2 separate regions of the Homo sapiens genome follow, and region 2 is linked to region 1. The links come from fine-mapping of genetic effects on gene expression. A gene starts in region 1. The other region holds a variant in brackets. All regions are shown on one strand. Distances are between the middles of the regions. Region 1 holds the start of CHKB-DT (CHKB divergent transcript). Region 2 overlaps MAPK8IP2 (mitogen-activated protein kinase 8 interacting protein 2).

Region 1 (4,377 bases):
TTTCAGTAGGGTGAGGAGTTTCAAAGGTTTCTACTTTGCGCTTCCTTACATATGGTACCAAAGGCCTGGGATCAATGTATACGCTCCGCCCTCTGCTAGGTAAAAACATCCCAAGTATGCATTGAGACCAGAGAAGTAACCACAGGACTCGGGTTGGGAATTCTGCTTATCATCTGATTTCCATAAGCCTGCACCCTAATGAGAGGGCCATGATGCTTCAGGGCTCCTGGAAACAGTGTCAGCTCAGATCCTGTATCAGCCCTTCAAAGACCTAGACAGTCCCTTTTCCGAAGTAAACTAGTTTTTTTGGTGTGTTTGTTGTTGCTGTTCAGACAGTCTTGCTGTGTTGCTCAGGCTGGAGTGCAGTGGCGTGAACACAGGTCACTGCAGCCTTGACCTCCTGGGCTTAAGTGATTCTCTCACCTCAGCATCCAGAGTAGCTGGAACCACAGGCACCTGCCACCACGCCCAGCTAATCTTTTAATTTTTGTAAAGACAGGTTCTTGCTATGTTGCCCAGGCTGGTCTCAAACTCCTGGGCTCAAACGATCCTCCTACTTCGGCTTCCCAAAGTGCAGGGATTAAAAGCGTGACCCACTGCCCCCAGCCAGAATCAGTTTTCTTTTTTTTTTTTTTTTTTTTGAGACTGAGTCTGACTCTGTCGCTCAGGCTGGAGTGCAGTGGCTCGCGGCAACAAGGCCTGGGTTCAAGGGATTGTCACGCCTCAGCCTCCCGTGTAGCTGGGATTACAGGCACAAGCCACCAAACCCGGCTAATTTTTGTATTTTTAGTAGCGACGGGGTTTCGCTATGTTGGCCAGGGTGGTCTCAAACTCCTGACCTCAAGTGATCTGCCCGCCTCGGCCTCCCAAAATGCTGGGAGTACAGGCGTGAGCCACCACGCCCGGACCAGTTACTTTTTAAAGTGGCTCTAGGTCCCTTTAGGGAAGGATTGGAGGAATATTTCTTGGTATATGCTCAGATGCTGGTATTGTAAGATCCTTCCTGAGAGGAACCAAGCCTCCTTGTCAATTAATGGGCTCTAGGTCTCAAAACTGACTCAGATTTAAACAGAATGATCATGATTTTCCACTGCAGCAAAAGTGACATTAGCCTTGTGATCACCAATTTTTGATTTCTTTCTGGTTATCAAACAATACTCTAGTCAGATGCCCCAAAGAACACCATGGTTCGACAGACATTGCCACAGATCTCTGTGGGTCCAGCGTTCCTGGTCGCCGCTCTAGCCTGGGGCAGAAGCAGAAATGCAGGAGGCACGCGTTTAAATCAGGACGCCCTCAATGGGAGGTGCGCAGGCCGAGGAGGGGGCTGCGGCAAGCTGCGAGTCTTCACTTTCTTCGGCTCTTGGGTTTGACTCTGTAATTGGTTCTAGGCCTGGAGGAGACGAGGAGGATAGGGGGAGAGGGGAATGAATGAAGACGCGCATCTCAAGCGGGGCAGCAAAAGACTCCTCATTCAGAGGTGCGGCTCTACCGGCCAGGGAGTCCCCGTGTAGACTGGGCATTTATGCAACTGGAGTCATCGGAACTGTCCCAAGGGTCACATTCCTTCAGCAAATGTTTACTGCGTACCCACCGGGTGCCCGCATCCCGCACTCTGCCCGCGCTGTGCGGCCCTGCCTAGCGCGCGCGCCTCCTCCAGGCCTCACCCACGCTCAGGACGGACGCGCGCTGGACGGCTCTTCCTTGTCGGAGCGCCCCAGGGGTCGGGGAAGAGGGCCCGGCAAGGGAGCCCTCGCGCCGGAGCTGCAGCTGCAGCCGCCGCCCCGCCGCCCCGCCGGCTCCCACGGGGCAGAGACGCAGCTCCTCTCCGGTCTTCCCGTACGCTACCGCGCCCGGGCAGTTCCTCGCCCGCGCACGCGCCGCTCCGCCAACTGATTGGCCTCCGGCGCCTCGGATTGGCCCAGGCCGTCCAACAGCAGCCCCGCCCAGAGAGAGACCATTGGTCCTTGCCCATAGGGGCGGGGCCCGGCAGAGATCTGCGGAATTCGGCCTTCGGAAAGAGCCCCCGGGCCGGGGCACGGAGAGAGCCGAGCGCCGCAGCCGTGAGCCGAATAGAGCCGGAGAGACCCGAGTATGACCGGAGAAGCCCAGGCCGGCCGGAAGAGGAGCCGAGCGCGGCCGGAAGGAACCGAGCCCGTCCGAAGGGAGCGGAGCGCAGCCTGGCCTGGGGCCCGGTCGAGCCCGCGCCATGGCGGCCGAGGCGACAGCTGTGGCCGGAAGCGGGGCTGTTGGCGGCTGCCTGGCCAAAGACGGCTTGCAGCAGTCTAAGTGCCCGGACACTACCCCAAAACGGCGGCGCGCCTCGTCGCTGTCGCGTGACGCCGAGCGCCGAGCCTACCAATGGTGCCGGGAGTACTTGGGCGGGGCCTGGCGCCGAGTGCAGCCCGAGGAGCTGAGGGTTTACCCCGTGAGGTGGGAGGTCAGGGGTCAGCCTCTCCGGTGCGCGGATCGGGGTCAGGGGTCAGCCGCGGGGCCCTCAGGATGCTCCATGTTTTCGCCCCCCTCTTGCGCCCGCGCCTGGGGCGGGGCGGGGCCGGCCTGGCCGGGAGGGGGCCGGGGCCGCGGCAGGTAGGGCCGGCCGCGGGCTGAGCGCGCCTGGTGTGGGTCTGCAGCGGAGGCCTCAGCAACCTGCTCTTCCGCTGCTCGCTCCCGGACCACCTGCCCAGCGTTGGCGAGGAGCCCCGGGAGGTGCTTCTGCGGCTGTACGGAGCCATCTTGCAGGTGAGGGGGGTGTGAGCGCCGCAGCACCAGTGGCTTTAGGGCCTGTCGCTTACGCGATGCGGGTAGTATTGTTCCCGTTGCGCAGTTGAGGACACCGAGGTTCACGGTCTGAGTAACACCTCATTACACCGAAGCCTGGGCCTGTATTCCCAGAGCTTTGGGAGGCTGAGGCGAGAGGATCACTTGAGCACAGGAGTTCGAGACCAGCCTGGACAACATAGTGAGACCCCCATCTCTAAATAAAAATAGACCAACGCTAAAGCCTGTGCTCCAGAGCCTCCAGGCAATTGGATCAGAAGTCGCAGCTCTGGTGGGAGGAAGGCGAGCCCTCATGTGTGTCCCTGTGCCACTTTGCCTTGGCCCCTTTGCTGTCCATCCTTTTTCAGGGCGTGGACTCCCTGGTGCTAGAAAGCGTGATGTTCGCCATACTTGCGGAGCGGTCGCTGGGGCCCCAGCTGTACGGAGTCTTCCCAGAGGGCCGGCTGGAACAGTACATCCCAGTACGGGCCCAGTCCTACCCTCTCCTCCCCAAGGCACCTCCACCCCCTAACCCTACCCCAGTGCCCAATGTCTGCCTCCACATCCCTCACCCCAAGTAGGGAATTTCCCCCAAAACCCTGACTTCCCCTCATTGCCCCAGCCCTTCCCACTCCTGCCCCAGCCCCATCACCACCCTGATAGCTTCCTGGGTGCAGAGTCGGCCATTGAAAACTCAAGAGCTTCGAGAGCCAGTGTTGTCAGCAGCCATTGCCACGAAGATGGCGCAATTTCATGGCATGGAGATGCCTTTCACCAAGGAGCCCCACTGGCTGTTTGGGACCATGGAGCGGTGAGTCAGGAGCCTCCTCAGGGCTCCTGTACTCCTGAGCTGAACCTCCATGCCAGCGGATGTGTCGGGGGCTCTATCCAGCCCTCCACTTGAGTGGATCTGATGTCATGGGCTGTCACAGAACAGGCTTTTAAATGCTTGCCAGAGGCCACATGCAGTGCCTCATGCCTGTAATCCCAGAACTTTGGGAGCCGAGGTGGGTGAGGTGGGAGGATCACTTGAGCCCAGGAGGCGGAGGTTGCAGTGAGCTGAGCTCATGCCATTGCACTTCAGCCTGGGTGAGAGCAAGACTCTGTCTCAAAACACCAAACAAAAAAAGAAAAAAGAAATGATTGCCAAGGCCAGGCACGGTGGCTCATGCCTGTAATCCTAGCACTTCGGGAGGCTGAGGTGAGCAGATTGCCTGAGCTCAGGAGTTCAAAACCAGCCTGGACAACACAGTGAAACCCTGTCTCTATTAAAATACAAAAAAATTAGCCAGGCATGGCAGCATGCACCTGTAGTCCCAGCTACTCGGGAGGCTGAGGCAGGAGAATTGCTTGAACCCGGGAGGCAGAGGTTGCAGTGAGCCAAGATCGCGCCACTGCACTCCAGCCTGGGTGACAGAGCAAGACTCCATTTCAAAAGAAAAAAAGAAATGATTGCCGGACAAGTCACACAGTGATAGGAGCAGGGGTGCAGTAGTCTGGCCTGAGGGGTAGATAGGCGAGGGGTGGGAAAGAATAGCAGAGCCAGTGTATCCTATTCTTTGGGCTTCAGGTACCTAAAACAGATCCAGGACCTGCCCCCAACTGGCCTCCCTGAGA
Region 2 (4,382 bases), 33 kb before region 1:
TTGGGAGGCTGAAGTGGGAGGATCGCTTGAGACCAGGAATTTGAGACCTGCCTGGACAACATAGTGAGACCTCATCTCTCCAAAAAAACGTTGGCTAGGCACCGTGGCACTTGCTTTAGGTCCTGGCTACCCGGGAGGCTAAGGTGGGAGGATCACTTGAACCCAGGATATCGAGGCTGCAGTGAGCCATTATTGTACCACTGCACTCCAGCCTAAGTGACAGAACAAGACCCTGTCTCTTAAAAAAAAAAAAAAAGAATATTACATAAACTTAGTTGATAAAGCAGCAGCAGTGTTTGAGAGGGTTGACTTCAATTTTGAAAGAAGTTCTACTATGAATAAAATGCTATCAAACAGTGTCACATGCTATAGAGAAATATTTCATGAAAGAGTCAGTGTGGCAAACTTCATTGTCTTAATAAATTGCCACAGCTGCTCCAACCTTCAGCAACGACCACCCCGATCAGTCAACAGCCATCAACACTGACGCAGTACCTTCTACCGGCAGAAAGATTATGACTCACTGAAGGTGGAGATGATCACTGGCATTTTTTTAGCAATAAGGTGTTTTCTTTTTTTTTCAAAACAGAGTCTCGCTCTGATGCCCAGGCTGGAGTGCAGTGGCATGATCTTGGCTCACTGCAGCCTCCGCCTCCCGGGTTCAAGCGATTCTCCTGCCTTAGCCTCCAGAGTAGGTGGGACTACAGGTGCGTGCCACCACGCCTGGCTAATTTTTTTTTTTTTAAGACGGAGTCTTGCTCTGTCACCCAGACTGGAGTGCAGTGGCGTGATCTCGGCTCCCCAAGTAGCTGGGACTACAGGTGCCCGCCACCAGGCCCGGCTCATTTTTTGTATTTTTAGTAGAGACGGGGTTTGACCGTGTTAGCCAGGATGGTCTCGATCTCCTGACCTCATGATCCGCCTGCCTCAGCCTCCCAAAGTGCTGGGATTACAGGTGTGAGCCACTGAGCCTGGCCACGCCTGGCTAATTTTTTATATTTTTAGTACAGATGGAGCTTCATCATGTTGGCCAGGATGGTCTCAATCTCCTGACCTCATGATCCGCCTGCCTCAGCCTCCCAAAGTGCTGGGATTACAGGTGTGAGCCACTGAGCCTGGCCACGCCTGGCTAATTTTTTATATTTTTAGTACAGATGGAGCTTCATCATGTTGGCCAGGATGGTCTCAATCTCCTGACCTCGTGATCCCCCCGCCTTGGCTTCCCAAAGTGCTGGGATCACAGGCATGAGCCACCAAGCCCGGCCCTATTTTATTTTATTTCTTTTGAGATGGAGTTTTGCTCTTTTTGCCCAGGCTGGGGTGCAATGGCGCAATCTCGGCTCACTGCAACCTCTGTCTCCCGGGTTCAAGCAATTCTCCTGCCTCAGCCTCCCAAGTAGCTGGGATTACAGGCGCCTGCCACCACATCTGGCTATTTTTTTTTTTTTTTGTATTTTTAGTAGAGATGGGGTTTCACCATGTTGGCCAGGCTGGTCTCAAACTCCTGACTTCAGGTGATCCACCCACCTCGGCCTCCCAAAGCGCTGGGATTACAGTTGTGAGTCATCGTGCCCAGGCTCAATAAGGTATTTTCAAATTAAGGTATATACTTTAAAAGCTATTGCACATTCAATAGACTACAGTATAGTGGAAACATAACTTTTTTTTTTTTTTTGAGACAAGTTCTCACTCTGTCATCCACACTGGAGTGCAGTGGTGTAATTACAGCTCACTGCAGCCTCAACCTCCCAAGCTCAAGCAATTCTCTCACCTCAGCTTCCTGAATAGCTGGGGCTACAGGCACATGCCACCACACCCAGCTAATATATATATATATATATAAAATATGCATGTATTTATATATATTATATACATGTATATCTATATACTACATACGTGTATATCTATAAAATATACAGGTATACAATATATATACAGACCGGGTTTTTTTATGTTGTCCCTGCTAGTCTTAAACTCCTGGGCTCAAGCGATCTGCTTGCGTTGGCCTCCCAAAGTGCTGAGATTACAGGCATGAGCCACCATTCCTGGCCAACATAACTTTTATATACGCTGGAAAACAGAAAATTTGTGTGGCTCACGTTGTTGCAATCTTAGTGTGGTGGTCTAGAACCAAACCTGCAAAATCTCCAAGGTATGCCTGCAGCGACCTCTGCTATTTTGCTTTTATCTTTTGCCTTAAATTCTTCTTGATTCCCCTAACCTCCCTCTGCCTTCAACCCTCAAGTAGAAGGGAGACTGGAAAAAATACACCAAAATATTAGAAACAGTTATCTCTGGGCCATAAAAATACAGTTGATTTTAGCCTTTCTTCTATCATCTGCAGTCTCCAAAATGTCTATGATATGTGTTACTCTTTATAGGGAACGTAATTTTTTTTTTT[TTC/C]TTTTAGACAGAGTCTCACTCTGTCTCCCAGGCTGGAGTGCAGTGGTGCGGTCTCCACTCACTGCAAGCTCCGCCTCCCGGGTTCACGCCACTCTCCTGCCTCAGCTTCCCGAGTAGCCGGGACCACAGGTGCCCACCACTATGCCCAGCGAATTTTGTTTTTGTATTTTTAGTAGAGACGGGGTTTCACCGTGTTAGCCAGGATGGTCTCGATCTCCTGACCTGGTGATCCACCCGCCTCGTCCTCCCAAAGTGCTGGGATTACAGGTGCAAGCCATCACGCCCAGCCAGGGAAAGTAATATTTTTAAAAATAGGGAAATCCTACTTTTATAGTGTTTATAAAAATAATAACTTACTCAAGCACTACCCTTGGCCTGTCTGACTGGCAGATTCATTTAAGCCTTATGATAACCTTATGGGGTGGTATTTTTATTGTAGCCAAAATAACTTTTTTGTTTGAGTTTGATTAATTTATCTTAACTTTTTTATCTTTAGTTTTTCTGTGGATATTTCCATTTGCACTTGGAGGTCTCTAATAAGTAGCAAATAATACTTCAAAAAATTAAGACATATTTGCTGCAGGAAAAAAAGGAAGAGAAACACCCTCAGCTCAACTTCAGCAAAAATGAGGTGGTTTTTTTTTTTTTTTTTTTTTTTTTTTTTTTTTTTTTTGAGACGGAGTCTTGCTCTGTCTCCCAGGCTGGAGTGCAGTGGCGCGATCTTGGCTCACTGCAAGCTCCGCCTCCCAGGTTCATGCCATTCTCCTGCCTCAGCCTCCCGAGTAGCTGGAACTACAAGCGCCTGCCACCACACCCGGCTAATTTTTTGTATTTTTAGTAGAGATGGGGTTTGACCGTGTTAGCCAGGATGGTCTCGATCTCCTGACCTCATGATCCGCCTGCCTCAGCCTCCCAAAGTGTTGGGATTACAGGCATGAGCCACTGCGCCCGGCCAAAAATGACTTTTAACATTTTTTGTGTTTCAGCATTTTTCAACATATAGTTTCTAGAATGCTACATATGACCCTGCCTATTTTCTTTCTTTCTCTTTCTTTCTTTCATCTCTCTCTCTCTCTCTCTCTCTCTTTCTCTCTCTCTCTCTCTCTTCTTTTCTTTCATTGTGGTTACAGGGTCTTGCTCTTTCCAGCCAGAGTGTGGTGGCATGATCATGGCTCACTGCAGCCTCAACCTCCTAGGCTCAAGCTATCCTCCTCCCTTACCCACCCAAGTAACTGGGACTACAGGTGTGTGCCACCACACCTAGATAATTTTTGTATTTTTTTTTTTTTTTTTTTGTAGAGATAGAGGTTTCGCTTTGTTGCTCAGGCTGGTCTCGAACTCCCAGACTCAAGGGATCTGCCCACCTTGGCCTCCCAAATTGCTAAGATTACACAGTAGCATGAGCTGCTGTGCCCAGAAATTTATTTCCACTTAATAGCATAACAGAAATTTTCTGTGTAATTACAAACATTGGAACTTTTTTTCACATCTACCCAATATTTCAATTAGGTAAATATACCTTAATCAATTAACCCTATTGGTCAATATTCAGATTACTTTTATGCTTACATTATTTCAAAGAAGAATGCAATAAACACTTTTCTGTAGAACGCGTTTTATTTAGAACGCCATCCTTGGGCTAGATTGGCGGAAGTTGGAGGCGTCATGCAGCGCCTCCTGCCTGGGAGCCAGGCGATCCGCCAGGTTCTGGGAGGACCTAAGGTCAACAGCCACGCCTGCTCTCTGGGCTCACAGTCAGCAGCCGCTACCAGGAGAGCAAGTCCTCAGAAGGCCCGAGACCAGGGCCCGGGAGCGCCCACAAGGACGGGAGGTCACCCAGTGACAAACAGGGAAGGGCAGCAGGTGCGCCCAGGAACCCAGAGGCTCCCAGAGCAGAAGTGGGATGCAGGGGTGGGGGCGGGTCATGCTGAGGTTCAACAGGGACCTGCTTCCTGGTTCAACAGGGAGCTGGCCAGAGA

What was found. PIP is the estimated chance that this variant, and not a neighbour inherited with it, causes the effect.
Region 2: its variant is the best candidate, but not a certain one, in a credible set for the expression of CHKB-DT in naive CD4 T cells (Schmiedel 2018, PIP 0.71).

The regions. Positions count from the first base shown.
Region 1 is chr22:50,580,614-50,584,990 of GRCh38, reverse strand. It overlaps CHKB-DT (CHKB divergent transcript), which reads right to left and starts at 1,965. Exons shown (of 4, transcript NR_110536.1): 1 at 1,668-1,965. CHKB (choline kinase beta) reads left to right here and starts at 2,142. Exons shown (of 11, transcript NM_005198.5): 1 at 2,142-2,433; 2 at 2,634-2,742; 3 at 3,129-3,242; 4 at 3,438-3,571; 5 at 4,331-4,377. The coding sequence starts at 2,210. It overlaps CHKB-CPT1B (CHKB-CPT1B readthrough (NMD candidate)), which reads left to right and starts at 1,992. Exons shown (of 30, transcript NR_027928.2): 1 at 1,992-2,433; 2 at 2,634-2,742; 3 at 3,129-3,242; 4 at 3,438-3,571; 5 at 4,331-4,377. RefSeq lists silencers at 1,596-1,995, 2,026-2,115, 2,446-2,645.
Region 2 is chr22:50,613,598-50,617,979 of GRCh38, reverse strand. MAPK8IP2 (mitogen-activated protein kinase 8 interacting protein 2) reads right to left here. Exons shown (of 12, transcript NM_012324.6): 12 at 4,002-4,382. Among named protein-coding and RNA genes, the nearest start is that of ARSA, 12 kb to the left of the region's middle. The variant TTC/C (reference allele first, on the strand shown) is at 2,402.